Linked DNA regions of Homo sapiens: region 2 is linked to region 1. A link means that fine-mapping ties the variant in region 1 to the expression of a gene that starts in the linked region. Tissue or cell type: macrophages. Region 1 holds a variant in brackets; the other region holds the start of a gene. All regions are shown on one strand. Distances are between the middles of the regions.

The links. PIP is the estimated chance that this variant, and not a neighbour inherited with it, causes the effect.
Region 2: SLC27A2 starts here. The variant in region 1 is fine-mapped to the expression of SLC27A2 in macrophages (Alasoo 2018, PIP 0.95).

Annotation. Positions count from the first base shown.
Region 1 is chr15:50,119,802-50,127,908 of GRCh38, forward strand. It overlaps a transcript of ATP8B4 not described here. Among named protein-coding and RNA genes, the nearest start is that of ATP8B4, 4.6 kb to the left of the region's middle. The variant C/T (reference allele first, on the strand shown) is at 4,553.
Region 2 is chr15:50,179,025-50,187,131 of GRCh38, forward strand. It overlaps SLC27A2 (solute carrier family 27 member 2), which reads left to right and starts at 3,172. Exons shown (of 10, transcript NM_003645.4): 1 at 3,172-3,881. The coding sequence starts at 3,404. It also overlaps a transcript of ATP8B4 not described here. RefSeq lists silencers at 3,064-3,403, 3,674-3,773.

The DNA.
Region 1 (8,107 bases):
ATGGATGAAAGCTAAGCATACTCAAGTGACATTTAGTAGGCAAAGCAATGACACTTCTTTCCCAACATCCTTAATTTCAGCACAGAGGATGCAAACATTAACCCTGATGGTACCAAAGAACAAATGCACATAGGAAATGGATTTACATCTTTTAGTTTGGAATTGCTTTTAAGGGGATTCTGGTTGTTAAAGCGGGATTAGATGAAAATAAAATATTTTGGTGCATATCTATTTTTAAAAGGAAAAATATGGCTTCTTTTAAATATGCCTAAAGCCATCTAGGAATTTTCCAGAAGTTGCATCAGATTTGCCAGTTAAGTACTGAAATCAAATAGATTTTAATCATGTCTCTATAACCAGAGCAAGCTAATCCCCTGCGCACCATCAACTCCACTCTCCTGGAACATCCTCACGCTGGGCCCTCAGGTTTTCACAGAAACAAGGGCCTTTTCCTACCAAGGTTCCACAGTAACAAGAAACTACAGATTTCTGGAAATAAGAGAGATGGCTTTCTTTCTTACATGATAAAAGAGGACCAAGAACAGCTTAGAGCAGGAAGCAATCATCTCTTTAAAATATTTAAAATAAAAAACACTTTTAAGTGAAAAACATTTTTAAGTATCACCTCTATACCATTTTTAAACCTATCATATGGGGCAAATATAAGTTTGGTAATTCCCTTTGTTAAAGAAGATATAAGGAAATCAGGGCCTTTTCCTTTTCCTATACTGTTAGTGGGAATATAAATTGGTAAAATATTTTTTAAAGGAAACTGAGTATAGTAGTGCCTATCAAGTATTGAAATGTGTATGTGTTTTTATTTCTTAGGAATTTACCTTATAGAAAACCACACACACGTGCAAACATATCTCTAAATATGTTAATTATAGCACTATGATAGCAACAACAAAAAAACACCTAAAAATGGCTTACATATAAGAGACTGCCTAAATAAGTTAAGGTATATTGATACAAAAGAGTACTATGTAGCCATTCAAAAGAGGGTAGAATTGGAGTAAGGAATCAGGTCATCTGAGTTTAGTTCTGTCTCCACCAGTGACTGGCCAGGTGACTATGCAAGCTCCTACACTTATCTGGGCCATCTGTAAAAAGATGATCATTATAGAACTTACCTCATAGGATTGTTGCAACTAAAACAGTGCCTGGAGCAAAGTAGAGACTCAATAAATTTAGCTATTATAAATAAGAGATAGGCCTCTTCAGACTGACATAGAAAAAGATGTCCAAGATGTACTGTCAAGTGAAAAGATCAAGTTGCAGAAGAATTGTGTATAAGATAATCTCATTTTTAAAAAATATTTTAAATGTGCTCGCTGTTTATTGTCTCCCTCCCACTAAAATAAAAGCTCCTTGAGAGCAGGGACTTTTGTTTACTGTTGAACTCCTGGTGTCCATAATAAGCACTCATGAATAATGAATAATGTCGAATGAATAATGATAACAGCAAGGCTCAGCAAGAAGAATAGGTGAATTCACAGAGACAGAAAGAGTAGAGGCTACCAAGGGCTGCAGGAAGAGAGTATGGGAAGGTATTGTTTAATGGGTACAGGGTTTCAGATTGGGATGATGGAAAAGTCCTGGAGATGGATAATGGTGATAGTTATACAACACTGTGAATGTACTTAAAGCCACTGAACTGTACACTTAAAGGTAGTTAAAATGATAAATGTCATGTTATGTATACCTAGCACAACTTTTTCAAAAATTTCTACTTTTTCTTCATAAGGAGTAGAAAGACGGGGAACAGAGAAGGATGTCCATCTTATAGAGGACTATTACTAGTGTGACTGCAAACCCTTGCTAATCAGAAAACAGTTTAAATTCTCGATTTAGGATACAAGAAAAAAAAAACCTTTTATTCCCATTATACAAAGGTAGCTAAACAGAGCTTAAACTTTCATCCCTATTAGGCAGTATGTGCACTGTCAGAACGCCAGGTCTGTGTTTTCAAGAGGCCTTATTTTGTTTTAAAGCCTTACTTTTGACAAACGTCCTTTATGTCTGTAGTCTAGAGTTTTCAAAGTGCTTTCTCAAGGATCATCTCAACTTGTCCTGACAAAAATCTCGTGATCATATTAAAGGAATTTTAATTAAGTATCTGAGCATTTGAGAGAAAAAAAGAATTCTGAATTTACTCACTCTTTTACCTTGTTCTCCAACTTTACACACATTTCATCAAAACGAAGAGATGGAAATTTTTATTCTTAAGAATCTGAAACCACACAACTATAAGTCTAATATACAACGGAATAAATAGCATCTTATGTTTCTTAGAACCTGTAAATATCTCTTGCCTAACTGCCAAGATAGCTAAGAAAGCCAATGAATTATGGTTTTAGATAAACAGATTAACTACCTGTAACAAGTGGGATGGCCTGGCCTATAGTTTGAAATCTACAGTTGGAAGAAATTGATCTAACATATTTTCATTCAACAAATGCAAATACTCTGCTAGACACTTTGTGGGACATAGAAAAGATGAACAAAATATGATTCCTGCTCCTGTGATGCTTATCAGCTGCTGGAAGGAATCAGATGTGCAGATGAGGAGATTCTGCAATTTAAGTCTCTGACATTGAGAATGGGATTGACAAATAGTAGATTTAGTCACTTTATGTCAATTCAATTTAATAACAATAAAATAAATTAAGATTTAATTGATTACCTGGAATTTAGTCATAACAGAAGTTTTAGGTTTTGTTGTGTTTGTCTGTTTGTTTGCTTGCTTGCTTTTAAGGCCAACAAGGGAAGATTGAGTTGATTGAAATGTCAAACCAAGTCCTTGGTGTCAGCCTAAACAGCAGAGAAGTAGCTCTGGCCTAAAATTGCAATTTGGGAATATGCACTAAATAATGAAAGAAAATCAGAACAAAGTATTTCATAATTCTATAAGCATATTCTTGAACTATCCACCTGCTCCAAGCAGACTAGAAGCCCACTTGAATCTCCTAAAGTCTACACTGGAGTCTACACTGCAAACCTACTCACTAAAGAATGAGAATTGCTGAAGTGTAAATCATAGAACATTGTGTAAATTACTCACCCACCTTAAGCCTTAACTTCCTGGTTGCAAAATTGGGAAGATTAAAACCTTCTTCTCAAGCTGTTTGTGAAGATTAAATGAGATATTCATTAAATAAATAACAAATGGATAAAAGTATGCATTCATATGAAAATTGTATATGCAGTGATAGAATAAGAATAAATAGCACACAACCCAGCACCTGTCACATAAGCCATTGTCTAACAAAGGTCAGTATCTTCTTTACTATCTCTCCAGAATCCAAATGCGACTACATTTTCTTTATCAGAACAGATAGGAGACTGAAGCCACCTTTGCAAAAATTATAACAGTGAGAAGATTATGACAGTGAAAGACATCTGACCTAACTGACTCCATCTTGCTTCTAACCTCCAAGCTGTCCTTGTCATTCCTGGGCATAGGCTGAACTAACTTTGGGAAAAATTTAGTTTATAGTTTAACTTTGCAACAAAGATGGTAACAGCCCTTCCCCAAACAAACCCCCTTCTTACCTAGGGACCAGTCTGCCTTTGTAGGACTAACAAATTAGCTACAGGATTAAAAATTATGGCTTAGGAGTCATGCAGCCAGAGGCTGCAAGATTCTGAACCTCCCCATATTGCTCCTGAATGGTTTACAGAATTAACCAGGAACAGAAGACAGCAAGGAAAACCCAGTTCAACCTCCTGTGATTTCATCTTCAACTCGACCAATCAGCATTCCCCACTTTCTGACCCCCTACCCACAAAATTATCCTTAAAAACCCCAATCCCCAAATTTTCAGGGAGACTGATTTGAGTAATAATAAAACTCCTGTCTCCCATACAGCTGCCTCTGTGTAAATTAAACTCTTTCTCTGTTGCAATTCCCCTGTCTTAATAAATTGGCTCTGTCCAGGCAGCAGGCAATGAGAACCCACTGGGCAGTTATGAGACCTTTGAATTCTGAGCTACTCCACATCTCCAGTTTTTTTCATCCTGATCCAACCATCTGTCTTCTCCTCTCTCTAGGGCAGTATTCCCCAAGCATATCCTTTCCATACACCATAAAACAGCATAAACAGACATTTTAAAGGGATGATATCAATAAAGATAATTCAAAGTTTTAGTATTTTCTTCCTGCACCCCAGAGCAGTTATTCAGAACCTCCTTACCTCAGCAGGTGACAGGAGTACAGTACACTAATAATGTTCCTGGGCCACCACGCCCCCTTCTCTCTAGTGATTGAAACCAATTTGCCTCCCATTCAAAAACAGATCCAACAAGTCTTTGAAGTAACATATGCCCTCATAGCCTTTAATATCTAAAAAGAAAGTATAGTTTTCTAACCTCTTGTAGTTTCATTTATTATCTGGCACTTTCCACTGTGTATTGGGCCGAAGTTCACCAAGAGAAGGTAACTCAACTCCTCCCCCACCCCAATTTCCCCACCAATTACTTAACCTTTTATGAAATAAAGGAGGTTTCTTTACATTGGCCAACATAAACGACTGACCCATTGTTGGTAGTG[C/T]CCTTTCCTGTGTGGGATTTTCCATCCTCCATGAAAAGACTCACAATTAAGTTTTACTTATTACTCAACTAACTCATGAAAAGAACAAAAAGAGAATAAGAGAATGCAAACAAGAAGTTAGAAGTTAAGCCACAGATAGAGACCCGGATTTAGAAGTAGAGGACTTTTCTACTCTACTAATAAAATTTCAGGAATTAAACTTAAAGTAATATAAATCCACCACTACATTACAATTAAGCTGGTAAGATTTTTAAAAAGAAAAAAAAAGATACCTAAATTTATGGGTGCTAAATGTCACCTCTGGGAACCAGCTCCTGACAGTGATCTGGACTTTCCCTCAAGGGCTCTCCTGAATATCCCTTTCAGTGCAGACACTCAGACACAAGCAAGAACAATAGATCCTACAGGGCTTGTTGTTATGCAAGCCCACTCACCAAAACCAGGTGATTTGCATTTAATTTGCCCTTTCAAATACTATCTGAACCATGTGTTCCAGAACTAGATGACCCAGCTTTAAACCAGACAGCCTAACACCAAGCCAGACTATTGGCAACTCTAGTTGTAAAAGTCATTCTAACAATTCATTTCCAAGTGATGAATGCTCCACAGCCAAAACTGGATCCTGGAATAGGCTGTTGGCATCAGCAAGAGAAACACTCCCTAAAATAATGTATCTCTTGCTATCAGGGGAGTATAGTATCTTCTTTGCACATAATGGGTATCCAGTAAAGACTTTTGGCCTCCGCTTTTTTATAGACTGACATCATAAGAAGTCCTTCCAACAATCAGGGCATTTACAAGAAAGGAGTAGTAGAACAATGAACCCGATCTGGATCAGTTTCAGGGCTACATGGTTCTTGTTATCTCAGAATCTCCAAGACCCAAGGAGCAGCCAGACACTTAGGGTCTTTTAACACTCACTCCAGCCCCATTTTCTCCTTAGCAAACTGTCATCCCAATGAGAAGAGACGCTCTGCTCTTCATCTCTTTACCCTTTTAGTCTGTCCTCCAGGTCACTGGGTGTGAAAATTTCCTACCCCTTATATGACACTTGGGAAGTGTAGGGTCCAAGATCAAAGGAGTTCAGGCTCTTAATCAGGACATGTCTCTGGGACATTTCACACATTCTTCACCATTTTCCAAGCCCCAATTCTGTATCAACCCCTCTGCAAGGCATTGGGGACCCCAAGGTAACTGAGACCTGGTCTCTGTGAGAACAGAAAAATAGCTCAGAGCAGTCTGCACTACGGGAGGTTCGAAAAATTTATCAGGCCCAAAAAGACAGGAGTCTAAGATTTCAGTCATGTGACCCCCAAACCCATCTGTGGGGGCAATTGTTTAAAGGCATTTTGTTCCTGACTACCTGCCTCACCTATTATCTTCATGTTCCTGGAATTTTAATACAAAGAAACAACATATAGCCAATCAATAACTTATGTTATTTTTAATGTAAATTCTTGGTAAACAACTTAGAAACTGCCTCTTCTTTTCTTTAAAAACCTGCTTGTAACTGCTGCTACAGCTTGTAACTGCAGAAAACTGAATCTATGCTCCCAGGTTGCAATCCTCAAGCTTGGCCCAAATAAACCCTCTAGTTATATCTATTTTGCCTGGGATTCTTTCTTTTAGGTCGATATCTGCCCTAACAAGAATCCTTCTAGTGGAAGAGAAAATAGTTGTGAACAAATTGTGACACAATGTGATAGTAACTCTAATTTAGGTGTCCCTTGTCCAAACAGGCTTCGGAACTACAGGAGAGGGGAAGCCATATTTCAGTGTGGGTGTGGAGGTGTCACGGGAAACCCTCAGAACAAGTGAAGCTGAGTCCTGAAAGATGAGTAGATGAGTTAGGGAGGGTCTTGTTAGTTCCTAACAAGCTAACAGTCCAAAAAAAAAAAAAAAACACTTCACTAATACTGTCAGAGGCGTCCAAGGCCTTTGAACCAGAGCAACTCCATCTTACATTCCCAGAAGATTAGTCATTCTTAGACACAGTTTCAGTTAAGGGAACAGGTTAATAATGTTTACTGAACAGACCCAGGAAATGTCCCGATGACCTGATATTGTTACTGGAAAGGGATCCCAATCCAGATCCCAAGAGAAGGTTCCTGGACCTTGTGCAAGAAAGATTTCCATTTGGTGGAGGTCCGAGTTTCTGAAAAGTAAACTCAGGGTCATATGTCAAGATGTTATCTTTAGCTTCTGTAGAGAACCAAACATCTTATGACTATAACTTCTTTAGCTATTATTTTAAGCTACTATTACTCTCTTACTTATCAAGTTGCTCATTTAATTCTCAGGACTAGCTAGGTGCCTGGAATTTCCATTGAAGAAACGCAAGATTTTCCTTTATTTCCATGCTTGGTGGAGGGTGGCAGGCAATCTGATAAGCAAGGAGGTAATAATAGCTTGAAACAATAGCCAAAGAAGTTAGAGTCCCAATAGAAACTAAAAATAACATCTTAACATATGTCCCTGAGCTGTTTTGCAGAAACCTGCCCACAGCCCCCACACCCCCCCGCCACCAAATGGAAAACACCATCCACTGGCACAACAGACCTTGGGGAAGGGGGAACTGGAGACTGAAATCTGACCACTGTTCTTCATTCTAAATTTCTTCCTGAGGGGCCTGGCAGAAGTTATACCTACAGGCCAGAGTTCAACATTCCTTTCTGCTGACCCCAAGTTTTTAAACAAATCTTAACCAATCGCAGATCGGGAAATCTTTGAATCTACCTGTAACCTGTGGACCCCCACTTCAAGATGTCTCCCCCTTTTTAGGTCAAACCAATAGCCTCCATGTATTGATTTATGGCTCTGCCTGGAACCTCTGCCTCCCTGCCTTTAAAAACTCTTACATGGAAGCCATCAAGGGGTTTGGGTTTTAAGATTAGCTGCCCAATTCTCCTTGCATAGCACCCTGCAATAAATGCTTCACTTTTCCTCACTGCAAATCAATCCCAGTGTTAGTATTTGGCTTTGCTGCATGGGCAGGCAGATTAACTGACCCATGTTCAGTTCAGTAACAATGGCCTTCCTCTACTGTGACTTGGGCTTCCATTCTAAATGGCTTGAGTGAGTCACAAACATACATCCCACAGCAATCGTGAATGTGGAGAGCAAAGGTGAGTTTGCCATCATCTCAGTATATCAGTCAATGTAATTTCTAGGTCCTAATGGATCAGAGACCAGGCAAAGATTAGGCAAGAATTGAGTCATGGAGGCCTCAAATGTTGCCTTATACACACTATCTCTGAGGATAGCAACCTAGACGCATTCTCTCTTAGATAAATAAACTGCTGCAGCTTGTGCTATAATACCGATTGCAAAGAAATTGATCCTACAGAACTAGAAGACTGCACTGGAGCAGGAGGTTAAAGCATCGGATGGCAGGAGGGAGATAAAACTGTTCAAGGCAGCTCTAGGACCATCCTGTCCTCTAGAGATATCCCATTATACATAGGGAGAGGAACAAACACCAGTAAGGTCTGTCTTTGAAGAAATATTAATTTCAGATGAACAATACCAAGGTGTGCCTCACTGTGGTTCTGCACA
Region 2 (8,107 bases), 59 kb after region 1:
GTCAGGGGTGGAAAGTGGTAAGAACAAGCCAGTAGAAAGAGGAAGGTGCAGGGCATTTTTAGGAGTGTGCAGACCAGACTTGCTAAAAACAAAGTGCGCTTGAAAAGGAACAGTTAGAATTAAGTTTTGGTCCATTTTAAAATATTTAATACCTAATAATGTTTGGTTCATAGCAGAAACTCAATAAATATTTGTCAATTGAGTGTAGTGAAAGCTTGAGTGAGATTCAGAAGAGCCAGAAAATAAAGTTTAAATTTCATTTTATAGACCAGAGGTTCCCAAGAGATGTACCAAGAATGGGCAGCCAACGTGCTAAGCTATCGATCACCTTTCAAAGGAGTCAGGCAGAAGCCAGGGCATCTGGTCAACTCTAGGCCAGGTATGTTCTAGTATGCTGTACAAGTACAACTGTCTATAGATGTCATTGGTGGAAGACAATAGGAAGCAATGGGGAACCACTAAAGATAATTGAGCAGTGGAGATATAAGATGGCAGCAATATTTCCAGGAAGACTATTGCTGTGGTTTTAATGTTCATGTCCCCTACAAAATTCATATATTGAAATCCTAACCCTCAATGTGATGGTATTAGGAGGTAGAGCCTTTGGGGAGTAATTTGATCATAGGGCAGAGCCCTCATGAATGGGATTAGTGCCCTCATAAAACAGGCCCCAGAGAGGTAATTTGTCCCTTCTACCAAACAGTACACAGTGAGAAGGCACCATCTGTGAGAAAGTAGCCCTTCACCAAACACCACATCTGCTGGCACCTTGATCTTAGACTTGCCTCCAGAAGTCTGAGAAATAAATTTCTGTTGTTTATAAACTACCCAGCTTACAGTATTTTGTTATAGCAGCCCAAACAGACTAAGACATCTATTAACCTCGTGATAAAGCAAGAGCTGGATCCCAGGCTCAAAGCTGGAATCACTGGGACTCCCAAGGTATATATTATAGACATTTGAAAATTACTTCCCCAAATTTACTCTCCCTAACCCCACTTTTTAATAATACCGTAAAACGTTCCACAAAATGGCCTAGGTGAAATTGATTATACTCTCACCCCCATGGGTGAGCGCTGATTGGCTTAAAACAACTAGCACCTTTTTCCCCAGGACCCACAGACATTGGTTCAGAAATGGGCGCATAATCCAGTCAGGGATTTTTTTTTTTATGAGAACTCCTAAGAAAAAGATTCCTGTACTTCTCTCTGAAGTTGAGCCAGAAAGCATGTACCCCTAAGGGCTGTTGGCAGCCATCTTTGGACAAAAACCAGAGAGCCTGAATGAGAACAGAGGAGGTGCAGAGGAGAAATAGTGAAAGCAAAACTAGATCCAGGTGTCAGCATTTAAAATCCTTGATGTCTTAGCCCCGGACTCTCCAGTTACTACTTAAATTCCTGTTTCTGCTTCAGCTAGCTTGGGTCTTGTTTTCTTTTACTTGTAACTGAGGTTAAAGTGATCCTCAGAATAAGAGGGGAAAAAGTGGACCCTTGTGGTAATCTAGCACTCTGGGTAGACAGTAGCTGTTCAAGGAAAAGAGAAGAGGGGTGCAGGTGGCTACACAGAAGCGATTAGCCATCAAGGGACGAGGGTGGCATTGGGATGAAAAAGGAAGGGCTGGCTCTGAGCTTCACCATGAAAGAAGTGCACATGAGAATGGTTTCTGTCGGGCCCTCACTTTGGTTAATTCTACTGCTTTCTCCTCAGGGATGATGAAGGCCCCCAGCTCATCCCCAGGGAAATGATGCAACCAGGTAGCTGGATCAGAAATGAAAAAGTCAGGAAAAGGGAAAGGTTGCTTGCGCAGTTACTAGGGATACGAAAAGGAGGCTAAAAAACGGCAGGGGGTGGCCTGGAGGGAATGTGAAACATTTTTGTGTGTTTTACACACACCGAAAAAAAAAGAGGACATGGACAGAAACCTAGAGAATAGGAGGACAGCATAGTATAGTTACTAAGAATAAGCTAAGAGTTGGTTCCCCGGGACCAAACAGATACCATTTCCAAAACCCACGAATTACTTACCGGCTGTCTCAATTCACCTAAGCTTCCCTTTCTTGTCTGTAAATGAGCATGAAAGTGCCACCTGTATAAAATAACTCAGGCTCCCAAAATGTAACATAGGGAAGCTCCTAGCAGCGTGTCTGGGAGGAATAAGCATTATCTGTATTTATCGTATCAAATTAAGATAGAGGAACACAGGAGGACAGTAGAGGATGAAAATAAAACACTACTTAGATCCTGACCCTCCTCAGTGGCAAGTAGTGAGCATTCACTTCGTACAGAAGTAGCACTAAGGCAAATTAAAAGAAAGGTTCACATTTCCTCTAAAAGAAATGGTTTTTGAGTCATGCCAATACCACTTACTCAATGTCCTCTGTACTATACTATTCTCTGACAGAGCCACTTATTAAATGTGTGAACTGTGCTGACAACACTTGACAACTTTCAACATGAGGGAACAGCAGGATCACTTAACAGAACAAAATCGTAAAATAATGTCAAAGCTTGATTTCAGGTGGTGCGGTGTAGCACTGCTCTTCACGAAATCAGGACTCCCCCGACCAGGCAGGGCCGACTAGGTTAGAGTGTCCTGCCCTCACTCACCTGGCAGGGCTTGGGATGAGCTGGACGTGACTGCCACAGGCATTTCTGTTCAACCTTGAAGCCTTCGCTACAGGAGACCGCCTGGCAGTCGGGCTGGGAAGCAAATCTGAGAAACAAAGAGAGACCAGGCGGAAAGCCCTTGGGACCAGGAAGGAGAGATGAGATTCTGGTTTGGCAGTGGCACCTGGTACCCGCTATTAATAAATAATAGGACTGTCTGACATTTATAAGGCACTTTATCGGTAATAACAGTGTCATCTCCATAAGCCATTCTATTAGTGGTAACAAATAATAGCCCCACGCCTGCAATATCTCCTTTAATATTCCCAACGTCCGCTAAGCGCGTCTCATCACCATTTAAAGAAACCGTGGCTCCTAGAGGTAAAGTACTTCGGTCACAACGCGAGGAGGTCCAGACTTGACCCCAGACCTCCAGACTCGAGCTGGGAAGTGGCCGAGGCTCCTGGTGAGCCGCAGGGCAGCCTGCCCAGCCCCGGGAGGACCGCGTGGGAGGGCCGGGAGAGCAGGTGGCTGCCCCCCACAAGGGGGCGGGCTCAGCCGGCCAGTCCTGCCCGGAACCCCCGGCAACGCGCATACGACTACACCTGCTCCGGAGCCCGCGGCGGTACCTGCAGCGGAGGAGCTCTGTCTTCCCCTTCATCTCACGCGAGCCCGGCGTCCCGCCGCGTGCGCCCCGGCGCAGCCCGCCAGTCCGCCCGGAGCCCGCCCAGTCGCCGCGCTGCACGCCCGGGGTGAACCCTCTGCCCTCGCTGGGACAGAGGGCCCCGCAGCCGTCATGCTTTCCGCCATCTACACAGTCCTGGCGGGACTGCTGTTCCTGCCGCTCCTGGTGAACCTCTGCTGCCCATACTTCTTCCAGGACATAGGCTACTTCTTGAAGGTGGCCGCCGTGGGCCGGAGGGTGCGCAGCTACGGGAAGCGGCGGCCGGCGCGCACCATCCTGCGGGCGTTCCTGGAGAAAGCGCGCCAGACGCCACACAAGCCTTTTCTGCTCTTCCGCGACGAGACTCTCACCTACGCGCAGGTGGACCGGCGCAGCAATCAAGTGGCCCGGGCGCTGCACGACCACCTCGGCCTGCGCCAGGGAGACTGCGTGGCGCTCCTTATGGGTAACGAGCCGGCCTACGTGTGGCTGTGGCTGGGGCTGGTGAAGCTGGGCTGTGCCATGGCGTGCCTCAATTACAACATCCGCGCGAAGTCCCTGCTGCACTGCTTCCAGTGCTGCGGGGCGAAGGTGCTGCTGGTGTCGCCAGGTGAGCCCCGAGGATCGCCCTGCCCTGGCACCAGGGCTTCTCGGCGCCTTGACTGACGAGCCACAGCGTGGCATAAGGGGTTCGCAGAGGGAGGTTCAGATCGGAACTGTAGGTATAGAAAAAGGTTGGCAGTGTTTCCTTGAATCGCAAATAATGATCTTTTAGGACCACCTGTTGTGGAAGCTGATAATGTGCTAGGTTCTGTGTTAAGCACTCTACAGGCAGTGTGGTTTTTAATCCTCACAATGGGTAGGCTTTGTTATAGGACTTTTATAGATGAGACCACTGAGGTCCTGAGAGGTGAAGCCTCATGCCCAGCCATCTATCTCCAAATTCCAAGCTCTTAATCAATACTTATAACATCTGCATTAAAATGCAGAGGATCTTGAGTGCGAACTCTAGTGGATCCAGAGGGGCTCTTCTCACCTCTGCTGCTTGACTGGCTGTGTGATCATGGGAAAGTCACTTCTCCTCTCTGTCCCTTGGTTTGCTCCTCTCTAATGAGGCAGGCTTCAATGTTGCTTCCAGCTCTCAACTGCTGTTAGCATCCTGTCCCCTCCCTGCAGAACAAAGGTGACCCCACCTGATCCCCAGGGAGAAGATACTGGGGATCTGCTACAGGACCGTTGTGAGCCCCCACTGCATCTATCACAATAGTGACCCTTTCAGTTCTGTGGTTAGCTCCTGCCACATTTCAGCCAGACTTGAAACAGTAACTTAAGTGATGACAAGGTCAGGAAGTGACAGAGAACCTGTTACTCACAGGGCTGATGGCTTTCCCCTCCCAGAGAGCTTGTCTCTGCACTTGAATAAGGACCAAGGGTTCCTTCTCTCAGTCAGTAAGAAGAGGCCTACACAGGAGTGGGCTGAAAGACCTGGGTGACAGGGTAGGGGTCGAGGGAGCCGAGGAGCCTCAGCTTTCTAGAATGCATTTCTGTGCTAAGCCCTATAGTAGATGCTTTTATTACCCCGGGAGATAACATATCACTATCCCCACCACCACCACCACCATTATACAGTTGAGAAAACTGAGGCTTAAAATTCCAACCTAGCTCTATCCAACTTCGAAGCCATGCTCTTTCCTACATCTTTTTTTTTTTTTTTTTTGACAGTCTCGTTCTGTTGCCCAGGCTGGAGTGCAGTGGCGCTATTTCAGTTCACTGTAACCTCTGCCTCCCAGGCTCAAGCGATCCTCCCAGCTCAGCCTCTCAAGTAGCTGGGACCACAGGCATGCACCACCATGCCCAGCTAATTTTTTGTTATTTTTGGTAGAAACAGGGTTTCACCATGTTGCCCAGGCTGGTCTCAAACTCCTGAGATCAAGCGATCCACCCACCTTGGCCTCGCAAAGTGCTGGGATTACAGGTGTGAGCCACCACACCCAGCCTCTTTCCTACATCTTATTGTTTTCCTCTGCATGGATGTAAACTGTTAAGTGTGCTGGAAGGGATGAAGTGTCCACTTGCTCTACCCCTTCATTTCATAGCTGGGGAAACTGAGGCAAGCTAAGCGGGTTACAGAAAGATGAAAGGTTAATTCACTTGTGAGAAACCAGGAATCTTACACACCTGCTTCATGTGGCATGAAATAAATAATCCAAAAAATATAGGCTTTGTATAAAAGTTTAAAAGCAGAAAGCCAAATTTTAGGCTGGGCGCAGTGGCTCAAGCCTGTAATCCCAGCACTTTGGGAGGCCGAGGCAGGTGGATCACTTGAGGTTAGGAGTTCAAGACTAGCCTGGCCAACATAGCAAAAACCCCGTCTCGACTAAAAAAAAAAAAATTAGCTGGGCATGGTGGCGCGTGCCTGTAATCCCAACTACCTGGGAGGCTGAGGCAGGAGAATCACCTGAACCCAGGAGGCAGAGGTTTCAGTGAGCCGAGATCATGCCACTGCACTCCAGCCTGGGGGACAGAGTGAGACTCCATCTCAAAAAACAGAATAAAAAAAAGACAAGTTTAAAGGTGGCTAAATTATTTGGAAGAGATGGTCCTTTCAAGAAAATTCCCATTAATTTCTAGCTGCCTGAGAAAAGCGATAACTTCACTACTTTGTAACTAGAAGACTCTCCTAAGCCTATTACTTTACCAGCTTGCTTGGAGGGAAATTATTAACACAGTGATCTTTGTACCACTTCAGGAAGCATTTAAATTCTGTTTATCACTTTAGTATCCCAGGTCCCCTGAGAGGGAGGTCACAGGGTTTGGAGTTTTGTTGACAAAGAAGTTCAGGATTAAATGACCATAATACAGTTTGATTCTGCAATAAAGTCAGAATTACAACCAGATACCCTCTTCCCACCCAGCTAACAGTTGTCTGCCATAGAGCTATGTGTTTACATAGAGAATATATGGGAATTTCTATATTAAACTCAAACGTGAACCAGACTTTACAGTGGACCTAAGGCACTCTCTGGACCGTCAACTGACCTCTGAGGGAGGCCACATATTTGAAAAAAAATCAGTTTTTCCAAATCACTGAGATACCTTTGCACATGAAGCAAAATTACAGTCTGTCACAGAGTTGCATGTTTACTAAACATGCCCATGGGAAAATATGTTGAATGGACTGATTCTTAGAATTCTTTGGTGTTGGAAGGGACCTTAGAGATATTCTAACCCTATAATCCTGTAAGTTTAATGAATGTGTTATACTTTAAAAAAAAAAGTTTACAGAAGAAACTTTAATAAGCCCAAGAATCACCTAGGAAGCTTACTTTTTTTTTTTTTTTTTTTTTTTTTTGAGACGGAATCTCGCTCTTTCGCCCAGGCCAGGCTGCTGTGGCGTGATCTCGGCTCACTGCAAGCTCCACCTCCCTGGTTCACGCCATTCTCCTGCCTCAGCTTCCTGAATAGCTGGGACTACAGGCACCCGCCACCACGCCCGGATAATTTTTTGTATTTTTAGTAGGGGCAGGGTTTCACCGTGTTAGCCAGGATGGTCTTGATCTCCTGACCTCGTGATCTGCCGGCCTTGGCCTCCCAAAGTGCTGGGATTACAGGCGTGAGCCACCACGCCTGGCCGGAAGCTTACTTTTAAAAACATTCTGAGGCTGGACACTATGGCTCACTCCTGTAATCCTAGCACTTTGGGAAGTGGAGGAGGGAGGATCACTTGAGCCCAGAAGTTCGAGACTAGCCTGGGCAACATGATGAAACCCCATCTCTACAAAAAAAAAAAATACAAAAATTAACTGGGCATGATGGTGAGCACCTGTGGTCCCAGTTACTGGGGAGGCTGAGGTGAAAGGATTGCTTGAGCCCGGGAGGTTGAGGCTGCACTGAGCTCTGACTGTGCCACTACACTCCGGCCTGGGTGATAGAGTGAGACCCTGTCTCAAAACAAAAAAATAAAATTTCTGAGATCATCCCCAAAAATGCTGATTCAGTAAGACTATGTTGGGGCCCAGGAATGTGTATTTTTATAAGAAACCCCACCGCCAACCCTAGGTGATTTTGAAACAAATGGTCTGAGGACTAGGCTTTGAGAAACAGTCTAGTTTCCCATTGTTTTTCATTGTTGTTTGTTTGTTTGTTTGTTTGTTTGTTTTTGAGACAGTCTCGCTCTGTTGCCCAGGCTGGAGGTGCCGTGGCGCGATCTCGACTCACGGCAACCTCCGCCTCCCAGGTTCAAGCCATTCTCCTACCTCAGCCCCTCAAGTAGCTGGGACTACAGATGCCCACCACCATGCCCAGCTAATTTTTGTTATTATCAGTAGAGATGGGGTTTCACCATGTTGGCCAGGATGATCTCCATCTCTTGACCTCGTGATCCACCTGCCTCGTCCTCCCAAAGTGCTGGGATTAGAGGCGTGAGCCACTGCTACTGGCCTTCTCATTGTCTTATAGCTGTATAAACAAAGGCCTAGAGGGATGATATGAATTGCCCATGATCAAGTGGATAGTTAGGAACAGAAAGGTAGAGATAGAACCCAAATATTTTTTTCTCACTTACGAGGCACTGTTTATTCTATCACACCATCTTGAACATGATACATAAATGTCAGTTTGATTCCATATTTTGAGTTTCAGCCCAGGGCTTGTGGACTAGTAAGAGCTCTTGAGCTCCATCTGTCAGTCAAATTCTGCAGTATATGTAAAGGACCAGCACAGAGGCATTTATCATGAGGATTGATCCAGTTGTTATGAATTTGGGGGTTTCTTTATAACACTTAACAGGACTCAACCCTATCAGGAATTTCAGTACTCAATTACTCTTTTCAATTT